Regions from separate parts of the Homo sapiens genome. Here region 2 is linked to region 1. The links come from fine-mapping of genetic effects on gene expression. A gene starts in region 1. The other region holds a variant in brackets. All regions are shown on one strand. Distances are from middle to middle. Region 1 holds the start of SESN2 (sestrin 2). Region 2 has its middle 16 kb from the start of MED18.

Region 1 (4,383 bases):
AGGGAGGCTGAGGCAGGAGAATTGCTTGAACCTGGGAGATGGAGGTTGCAGTGAGCTGAGATCGTGCCACTGCACTCCAGCCTGGGCAACAGAGCAAGACTCCATCTCAAAAAAAAAAAAAAAAAAAGATAAGAAAAAGAAACCTCCCAGATAGCAGCAGTTTTCTCCACTGAGGAAACATGGCTTCTGTGTAAAGATCCCTCCCTCAAAGCCTTTTCTCCCTAGACCAGGCACTGACCCAGAGAGGGGTGTACAGTGTCTGATCTCAGGAACAGGCTCAGGCACCCCCTTGTGAGACACTCTGGAGAAAGCTGTGCGTGCCATGGCCACGTTCTGATAATAGCAAGCAAGTATCACGCAGTTACTATGTTCCAGTCACAGTGCTTCAGCTTTTGCTTGTATTCTGAGTTAATTCTCCCAACAATCCCTTAGAGATACTGTAAAATCCCCATGGGAAGAAACCACAGATCAGAGAAGTGATTACTGGCTAAGCCACACACTGCAAGTTAGCAGGAGGGCTGGGACATGAACCCAGCACTCTTGCTCTCTAGTGTTCAGGTGTTCTCAATAGTAACATTATTTCCATCTTTCCAAAGAAGTCACACAGCTGAGAAGCTGCAGGAGAAGAGCCATTCCTCCACATGGCGCTCCTAAATCACGGCAGAGAAGGGTAAGCAAGCTAACAAAAACCAGGGCACAAACTATACACCGACGGAGGTAGGATCCCCAGAAACCACGTTACTAAGAGAAAAGCAGGGATTTTCCTGGGGTCATAGCACTCCACCAAATCCCAGGTCCAGAATACAACTTCCACCACACTCTAGGCCTGTAAACTAAAGCAACTAGAAGCTCCTAGTGCCGTGCAATCTCCGAAATCATAAGGCCAAAGAACAAGATATTCAGTGGGGTTAATGAAGAAAGCCTCTTTCTGAGCCCATCGTGGGCCTCAATGTTCTTCCTGTAAAATGGGGCTATAGCGTAGCTTGTATTGCTGGTTTAGTCCTGAGGACTTAGGTTAAAGGCGAAAAAAACTCAGAGCCTGGTATCTAGTAGGTGCATAATAAATGATAAGATGTCCATTATCGCTGCTGCTGGTAGTGGTGGGGGAGTGCGAACTGTCAGTCTGGTTAGGTCCAGCCTAATTCCCGGTCTCCCTGCAAAGCCCCTGCGGGCTATGCCGGGATGCGAATGCGGGGGGGTGGAGGGGAGCGGCGCGAAGGGAGGGTGGGGGAGGAATTTCTGGAAAACAAACTTCTGGGCCTTCAGACCACTTACTTAGCAGGGCGCAGCCTAACCCGCGCTTGGCTTCGGAAGCCGCGACCAGGGTTGTCCCCTCTCCCCCCAGCTTTGGCTGCCGCCGCCGCGTACCGGGCGGCCCGCCAAGCCCCCAGAGCCCCTGCGCTCTCCCTCCAAAGCAGGAGTGCGGTGGACATAGGATGAGGTCGACTTTCACTGGCCAGTCCCAGGTGCCTACGCCCCGCGCTGGGGGACAGGAGCCGGGAGGCACCCCAGGAAGGGTCCTCTGCCCGCCGGCCCCCGCGAAGAGGAAGGGACTCCGCGGAAGGGGGCGGGGAGGAGGAGTGGTCTGGCCGCTCCGGCCGGGATTTGCCTGGACTTGAAGACGCTCAGGAGCCCAAAGCTCGGAGAGCCTCCAGAAGGCTTCTCCCTCATTGGCCAGGAGTCCGAGGGAGCCGAGGAAGGATCCGCGGCCCTGGGGTGGGGCGGTGAGGGAGAGGGGGAGAGGGAGGGAGGAGGGGGAGAGGGAGGGGGAGAAGGAGGGAGAGGGGAGACAGAGTGGGGGAGGGGTGCCGAGGGCCGCGGCTGCCAGTTGATGCAACCCGGGTCCCGGGTTACGCGCTCGGCTTTCCCTCCCCGAGCCCAGGACACACCGACTCAGCTCCGGACAGCCTGAGGCTCAGACGCGGTTCGGGGTTCCAGGGAAGAGGGGCGTCGCGCGGCCGCCGCTTACCTCTCCGGGGCCCGAGTCGCCGACGCCGCCCGGGGCGAACCGCAGGTAGTCCTTGAGCTCTGCGCGGCACTCGGAGTCCGCCACGATCATGGTGCGCGCCAGGACCCGGTCGCGGCTCGCCGACGACCCGTGCACCCGAGTGGGTTTCGGAGGGACGCCCGAATGAAGCCGGGACTGGGCGCCGCCGGGGAGCTTCTAGAACCCCGGGGCGTCTCTCGGGGCTCCAGAACGCTCCGGAATCCGAGAACGGCCGCTTTGGTGCTGGACTCTTCCCCCAGTCGGGCTTCGGGAACGGCGAACGGCCTCGGGGGCCTGGGAAGGGCCGCAGCGCAGGGGTTTTCACGGCCTCGGAAGTCCGCAGGGGCCAGGGCTGCTCCCGGACCCAGCGCTCCTCAGCATCCCCGCCGCGGAACTGCCAGCGCTCGCCGGGCTCTGACACCAGCAGTTCAGCCCGCTGCGGTCCCCGGGGGAGGGCGGGGACACAAAAGCCCGGCGGTCCAGCCAATCAGAGGTCTGTTTCCCCGGGGAGGCGGGGGAAACTCCGCCCCCTGGAGTCACGGGCTCCGCCAATCAGCACCGGGGAGCGCCCGGAATTCTGGGAGTTGTAGTCCGCCTCGGGTGAATGCTGCAAACTTTTGCAAGACGGTTTAGTCAGATCCCTGGCAACACCAGACGGCAGTGACAGCCCTAAGAGTCATTAGGGTTGCGTGATGAAAAGGGACTTCACTGGGCTAGGCCAAACAGCCGAGTGTGAAATCTCCTAAATGAATTCTTCATCTTTTCAGTTCCTGGAGGGACTGGCTAGGGTTAAGAGAGGTTTGGCTCGCGTCCTATCCGGTGCTGCTAATTATAGAACTGAACCCCAGATATTTAGAGGTCAGAGGGCACAACCCTGCTCCCCCTGGCCTCGGGGAAGCTCCAAAGATGCGAGACACAGGGAATTCACCTTATTTGTGGAGCCTCAGGAAAAGCCTTCATTCCTTGAAATGTCATTGGTAACTTCGTGTGGAACCTCAATCCCTATTGCTGGAAGTTTTCTTCCTTCTGCTACCCGTCCTGGCTTCCACCCCTCCCACCCTCCTCGAAACTTTGTAACAAGGTGTTCTGCTGGATCTTTGCTCACCTCTCCCTCTGGCCTTCTCTGACTCCTCTTTCACCACCCACTTCCTAAAACGTGGGTGCTTCCCCAGTTTGTTTTTGCCCCTCTTCCCTCCAGACACTCTCCCTGATCTCATTCACTTCCTGGCCTTCAACTCGCCTCTTGCCAGAAAGTTGCCTCTACCAACACCTCAGCACCTCCAAGCTAAATTCATTTTCTATTCATTTCAAACGGAGCCTCTTCCTTCACAGTTTTCCTTCAGAGCTCCTTTTTTTGTTTCCATTTTAAAGTTATTGTTTATTCTAGACAGGGAATCCTGCCAGGGGTGAGGGTGGATAAGACCCCCAAGTCCCCCTCTGAGACTTCTAAGTCTAAGCTTACAATTCCAAAGATGAAACCGACTTGGTTTCCTGCCTCCAGATTCTTGGGAAAAAGAGATTAATCTCACCCTCCCCTGAGCTCCCAAGGCACTTGAGCTGGATCTCTTTTCACATGTATCACATTCTACCTAGTTTTTTTTGTTTTTTGTTTTTTTGTTTTCTGTTTTTTTGTTTTTGTTTTTTGTTTTTTAGTAAATAGAGACAGGGTCTCAATATGTTGCCCAGGCTGGTCTCAAACTCCTGAGCTCAAGCGATTCTCTCACCTCAGCCTCCCAAAGTGCTAGGATTATAGGCATGAGCCACCATGTCCAGCCACATTCTGCCTTGTATTGTAATTTTCTATGTACATGTTTTATCTGACCCTTTTTTCTTTTTATTAGTATTGTTTTTTAGAGATGGGGTCTAGCTCTGTCACCCAGACTGGAGTACAGTGGCATGATCATAGCACGCTGCAGCTTCAAATTCCTGGGCTCAAGCGATATTCCCTCCTCAGCCCCCCAAATCAATCACTGGGGTTACAGGTGTGCACCACTGAGTCTGGCTTATCTGATCTTTTTAATTGTAAACTCCTTGAGGGCAGGGTCAACATCTTTTTTTTTTTTTTTTTTTTTTTTTTAAACAGAGTCGCACTCTGTCTCCCAGGCTGGAGTGCAGTGGCCCGATCTTGGCTCACTGCAACCTCTGCCTCCCAGGTTCAAGCAATTCTCCTGCCTCAGCCTCCTGAGTAGCTGGGATTACAGGCAAGTGCCACCACACCCGGCTAATTTTTGTATTTTTAGTGGAGACAGGGTTTCACCATGTTGATCAGGCTGGTCTCGAACTCCTGACCTTGTGCTCTGCCCGCCTCAGCCTCCCAAAGTGCTGGCATTATAGGCATGAGCCACCGCGCCTGGCTGGCAGGGTCTACATCTTGACATCCATCTCCTGCTCTATGT
Region 2 (4,383 bases), 53 kb before region 1:
TGGCTCAGTGGAAGTCACAACAAAGTTGTCATGTGCAAGAGCTGCAGCTTGCTAATCCCAGCACTTTGGGAGGCCGAGGCGGGCGGATCACGAGGTCAGGAGATCGAGACCACGGAGAAACCCCGACTCTACTAAAAATACAAAAAAATTAGCCGGGCGCGGTGGCCGGCGCCTGCAGTCCCAGCTGCTCGGGAGGCTGAGGCAGGAAAATGGCGTGAACCTGGGAGGTGGAGCTCGCAGTGAGCCGAGATGGCGCTACTGCACTCCAGCCTGGGCGACAGAGCCAGACTCCATCTCAAAAAAAAAAAAAAAAAAAAAAAAGAGCTGCAGCTTGCTAGGAAATCTCCTGCTGTCTGCTCTTCCCCCAGAGGAAGTTCAAGAGTGGGCTGTACGGGAAGCAAAGACCACACTCTAGGCGTGACTGAGGGAAAGGCCTTCTGCGTAAAATCTTAGGACCATAGACTTAAAGGCGAAAGAGGCCTCCAGCCTCATTAGTCCAGCTTCCTATCTCCCACCCCACAGAACGGATGGGGAAACCAAGACCCACAGAGTGACCCACAGAGTGGAAGGGACTTGCCTAAATTACTCAGCAGGGAATTACAGGCCCCGAGCCATAGCCAGACTTTTCTCCTGAACATTTCCTTCTGAACCCACACTCTTTAGTCATACAGACTTAGGGTTGATTCCTGACCCTGCGCTAACCAGCTGTGTGACTTTGGTGAGTGACGTAACATCTCTGATCTTCAGTACCTGCATTTGTAAAATGAAATAATAGCATCTACCTCACTGGTTTGCTATAAAGATTAAATGATACAGGGCATGTAGGATGCACAATAATTTAAATATGTATGTAGTTCCCATCTTACAGATGAGGAACTGGAGCTTGTTGAAACTTCCCTTGGCTCAGGATAATACCTCAGGTTAAAGAGAGAGCCTACAAGAAGAGAAAGAAAACTCGGGTGAGAACTGGATGGGTACAGGTGAGCCAGGCTCCACCTTTCTGTCCAGGAGCTCAAGGTGACATGGGCCACCCAGTGACCTTTCCTGCCTCTGCTGCCTCAATGCACAGACAGGTTGGTTGTGAAACACCCCTGGGCGGTGACTCAGCCTGGAGGCCTGCTCTGCTGGTCAGCGCGGGCAGGCTGGAGCTGTTTGGTTGAGCCTGGAAAGGACAACATGTCTAACAAACACATTGCTTGTCAAAGCTCTGACGGGGGTGCCAAGCACAGACTGTGAACTCTGGTCCTTGAGGCATCACAGATGACTGAAGTGGGGTGCCTAAGTTGCATGCAACATCTCCTGGTTGTTGTTCTGGTCTAACAACCTTCCAGGGCCAATGTCAGGAAGAGGGTAATGTTTTAGAGGCTGGGGAGCTCCTATTTCTCAAGAGGCAGCTTGGCACGGTGGCCAGGACCTGGGCTTTTGGCATCCATATCATGCAGACCTGAGTTCACATCCTGGCTCTGGCTTCTCACTGGCTATAAGACTTTGGGCAAGTGGCTTAATCCTTTCAGATTTAAACTTCCTTATTCTATAAAATGCCCACCTTTTTATTTTTATTTTATTTATTTTTTTGAGACAGGCTCTTGCTCTGTTGCTCAGGTTGGAGTGCAGTGGCGCTATCTTGGCTCACTACAGCCTCAACCTCCCAGGCACAAGCGATCATCCTACCTCAGTCCACCCCCTGAGTAGCTGGGACCACAGGCATGTGCCACCAAGCCTGGCTCATTTTTTAATTGAGATAGGATCTCCCTATGTTGCCCAAGCTGGTCTCAAACTTTTGGACTCAAGTGGTCCTCCTACCTCAGCCTTCTAAAGTGCTGGGATTACAGGTGAGAGCCACTGTGTCCAGCCAAAATTGTCTTTTAGAGATAAAAGATGTAAAATTCATGAAACA[T/C]AGAAACTCTTCATAAACAATTATTAGAATCCTGCGCCCAAATCTGCCCCTTCCTTCACTCCAAATGGAAATTGCCCCTCCTGGCTGGGTGCGGTGGCTCATGCCTATAATCCCAGCATTTTGGGAGTCTGAGGCAGGCGGATCACCTGACATCAAGAGTTCAAGACCAGCCTGGTCAACATAGTGAAACCCTGTCTCTACTAAAAAAATACCAAAACTTAGCCAGGCGTAGTGGCGAGTGCCTGTAATCCCAGCTACTCGGGAGGCTGACAGGAGAATCGCTTGAACCCAGGAGGCGGAGGTTGCAGTGAGCCGAGATCACACCACCGCACTCCAGCCTGGGCAACAAGAGTGAAACTCCGTCTCAAAAAAAAAAAAAAAAAAGAAAAAAGAAAAGAAATAATAAATTGCCCTTCCTGCTCTCTTGCTATTGTAGTGTACTTTCTCATTCACCCAGAGGTAGTAAAAAAACCACCCATTCCAGGCCGGGCGCGATGGCTCATGCCTGTAATCCCAGCACTTTGGGAGGCCGAGGAAGGTGGATCATGAGGTCAGGAGATCGAGACCATCCTGGCTAACACGGTGAAACCCCGTCTCTACTAAAAATACAAAAACATAAGCCGGGTGCGGTGGCTTATGCCTGTAATCCCAGCACTTTGGGAGGCTGAGGCGGGTGGATCACGAGGTCAGGAGATCGAGACCATCCTGGCTAACACGGTGAAACCCTGTCTCTACTAAAAATACAAAAAATTAGCCGGGCGTGGTGGCAGGCGCCTGTAGTCCCAGCTATTTGGGGGGCTGAGGCAGGAGAATGGCATGAACCCGGGAGGCGGAGCTTGCAGTGAGCAGAGATCCTGCCACTGCACTCCAACCTGGGCGACAGAGCAAGATTCCGTCTCAAAAAAACAAAAACAAAAACAAAAAAACATTCCCAATGGTCTTGAGGTCTAATAACAACAACAACAAAAAGCAACCAGCACGCACTTATATATATATATTTATGGATAAGTACAAAAAATAAATCCTGTTTTGCATCCCAGAACTCATTGTTCAGTATGAGTTTGTTTTTTTTTTTTAATTGGCTGGGTATCGAGGCATGTGCCTGTAGTTGCAGCTGCTCAGGAAGGGGAGGCAGAGGCAGGAGGATCGAGCTCTGGAGTTGGAGGCTGTGCTGAGCTTTGATGGCACCACTGTACTCCAGCCTGGGCAACAAAGACAGACCCTGTCTCTTTTTTTGGGATGGAGTTTCAGGCTCTTGTTGCCCAGGCTGGAGTGCAATGGCGGGATCTCGGCTCACCGCAACCTCCGCCTCCCAGGTTGAAGCGATTCTCCCGCCTCAGCCTTCCAAGTAGCTGGGATTACAGGCATGTGCCACCACGCCCAGCTAATTTTGTATTTTTTGTAGAGATGGGATTTCTCCATGTTGGTCAGGCTGGTCTCAAACTCCCAACCTCAGGTGATCTGCCCGCCTCGGCCTCCCAAAGTGCTGGGATTACAGGCGTGAGCCACCATGCCCGGCCGACCCTGTCTCTTAATAAAAAAATGTTGATTCTAGGATTGTAGAATAGATAATTTAAAAGCATAGGATATGAGGGAAAACCTCAGCTATATTAATTTTGTATTTCAATTTCATGCTGACTTGATACATAAGATGGCTTTTTGTTTTAAAGGCTTTTATCTTGAGAACACGATATCTGGAGTTAAAGGTATTGGCATATTCCACACATCTGTACTTATTCTTGAGTGTGATTGCTTAGGAATGAATATGATTTAAACTCATTCATGTTTAGAGAGGGTGTCAAATTGAGAACCAGGAAGATCCACGTACGCTAAAAATGACCCTAAAGTAAGTTGGTTAAAAAATTAGATTCCAAACATTCTTGGTGAATTTTGAAGTCTTCTTCAGTGTACCCATATTATTATTATTATTATTTTTTTTTTTAATTTTTTTTGAGATGGAGTTTTACTCTTGTCACCCAGGCTGGAGCACAATGGTGCAATCTCAGCTCACTGCAACCTCCGCCTCCCAGGTTTAGGCGATTCTTCAGCCTTGCCTGCTGAGTAGCTGGGATTATAGGCATGTGCCACCATGCCCAGCTAATTTTTTTTTCTTTTTTTGAGGCGGAGTCTCGCTCTGTCACCCAGACTGGAGCGCAGTGGCGCAATCTCAGCTGACTGCAACCTCCACCTCCCAGGTTCAAGTGATTCTCCTGCCTTAGCCTCCTGAGTAGCTGGGACTACAGACTCCCAACACCACACCCAGCTAATTTTTGTATTTTTAGTAGAGACGGGGTTTCACCATGTTGGCTAGACTGGTCTTGGACTCCTGACCTCAGGTGATCCGCCTGCCTTGGCCTCCCAAAGTGCTGGGATTACAGGCGTGAGCCACCACGCCCAGCCTAATTTTGTATTTTTAGTAGAGATGGGGTTTCACCATGTTAGCCAGGCTGGTCTCGAACTCCTGACCCCAGATAATCCACCCACCT

What was found. PIP is the estimated chance that this variant, and not a neighbour inherited with it, causes the effect.
Region 2: its variant is fine-mapped to the expression of SESN2 in whole blood (INTERVAL, PIP above 0.99).

Annotation. Positions count from the first base shown.
Region 1 is chr1:28,257,524-28,261,906 of GRCh38, reverse strand. SESN2 (sestrin 2) reads right to left here and starts at 2,389. Exons shown (of 10, transcript NM_031459.5): 1 at 1,970-2,389. The coding sequence starts at 2,059. RefSeq lists silencers at 1,479-1,538, 2,319-2,528 and enhancers at 1,798-2,646, 2,639-2,818.
Region 2 is chr1:28,310,897-28,315,279 of GRCh38, reverse strand. No RefSeq gene overlaps it. Among named protein-coding and RNA genes, the nearest start is that of MED18, 16 kb to the left of the region's middle. RefSeq lists an enhancer at 1,143-1,643. The variant T/C (reference allele first, on the strand shown) is at 1,898.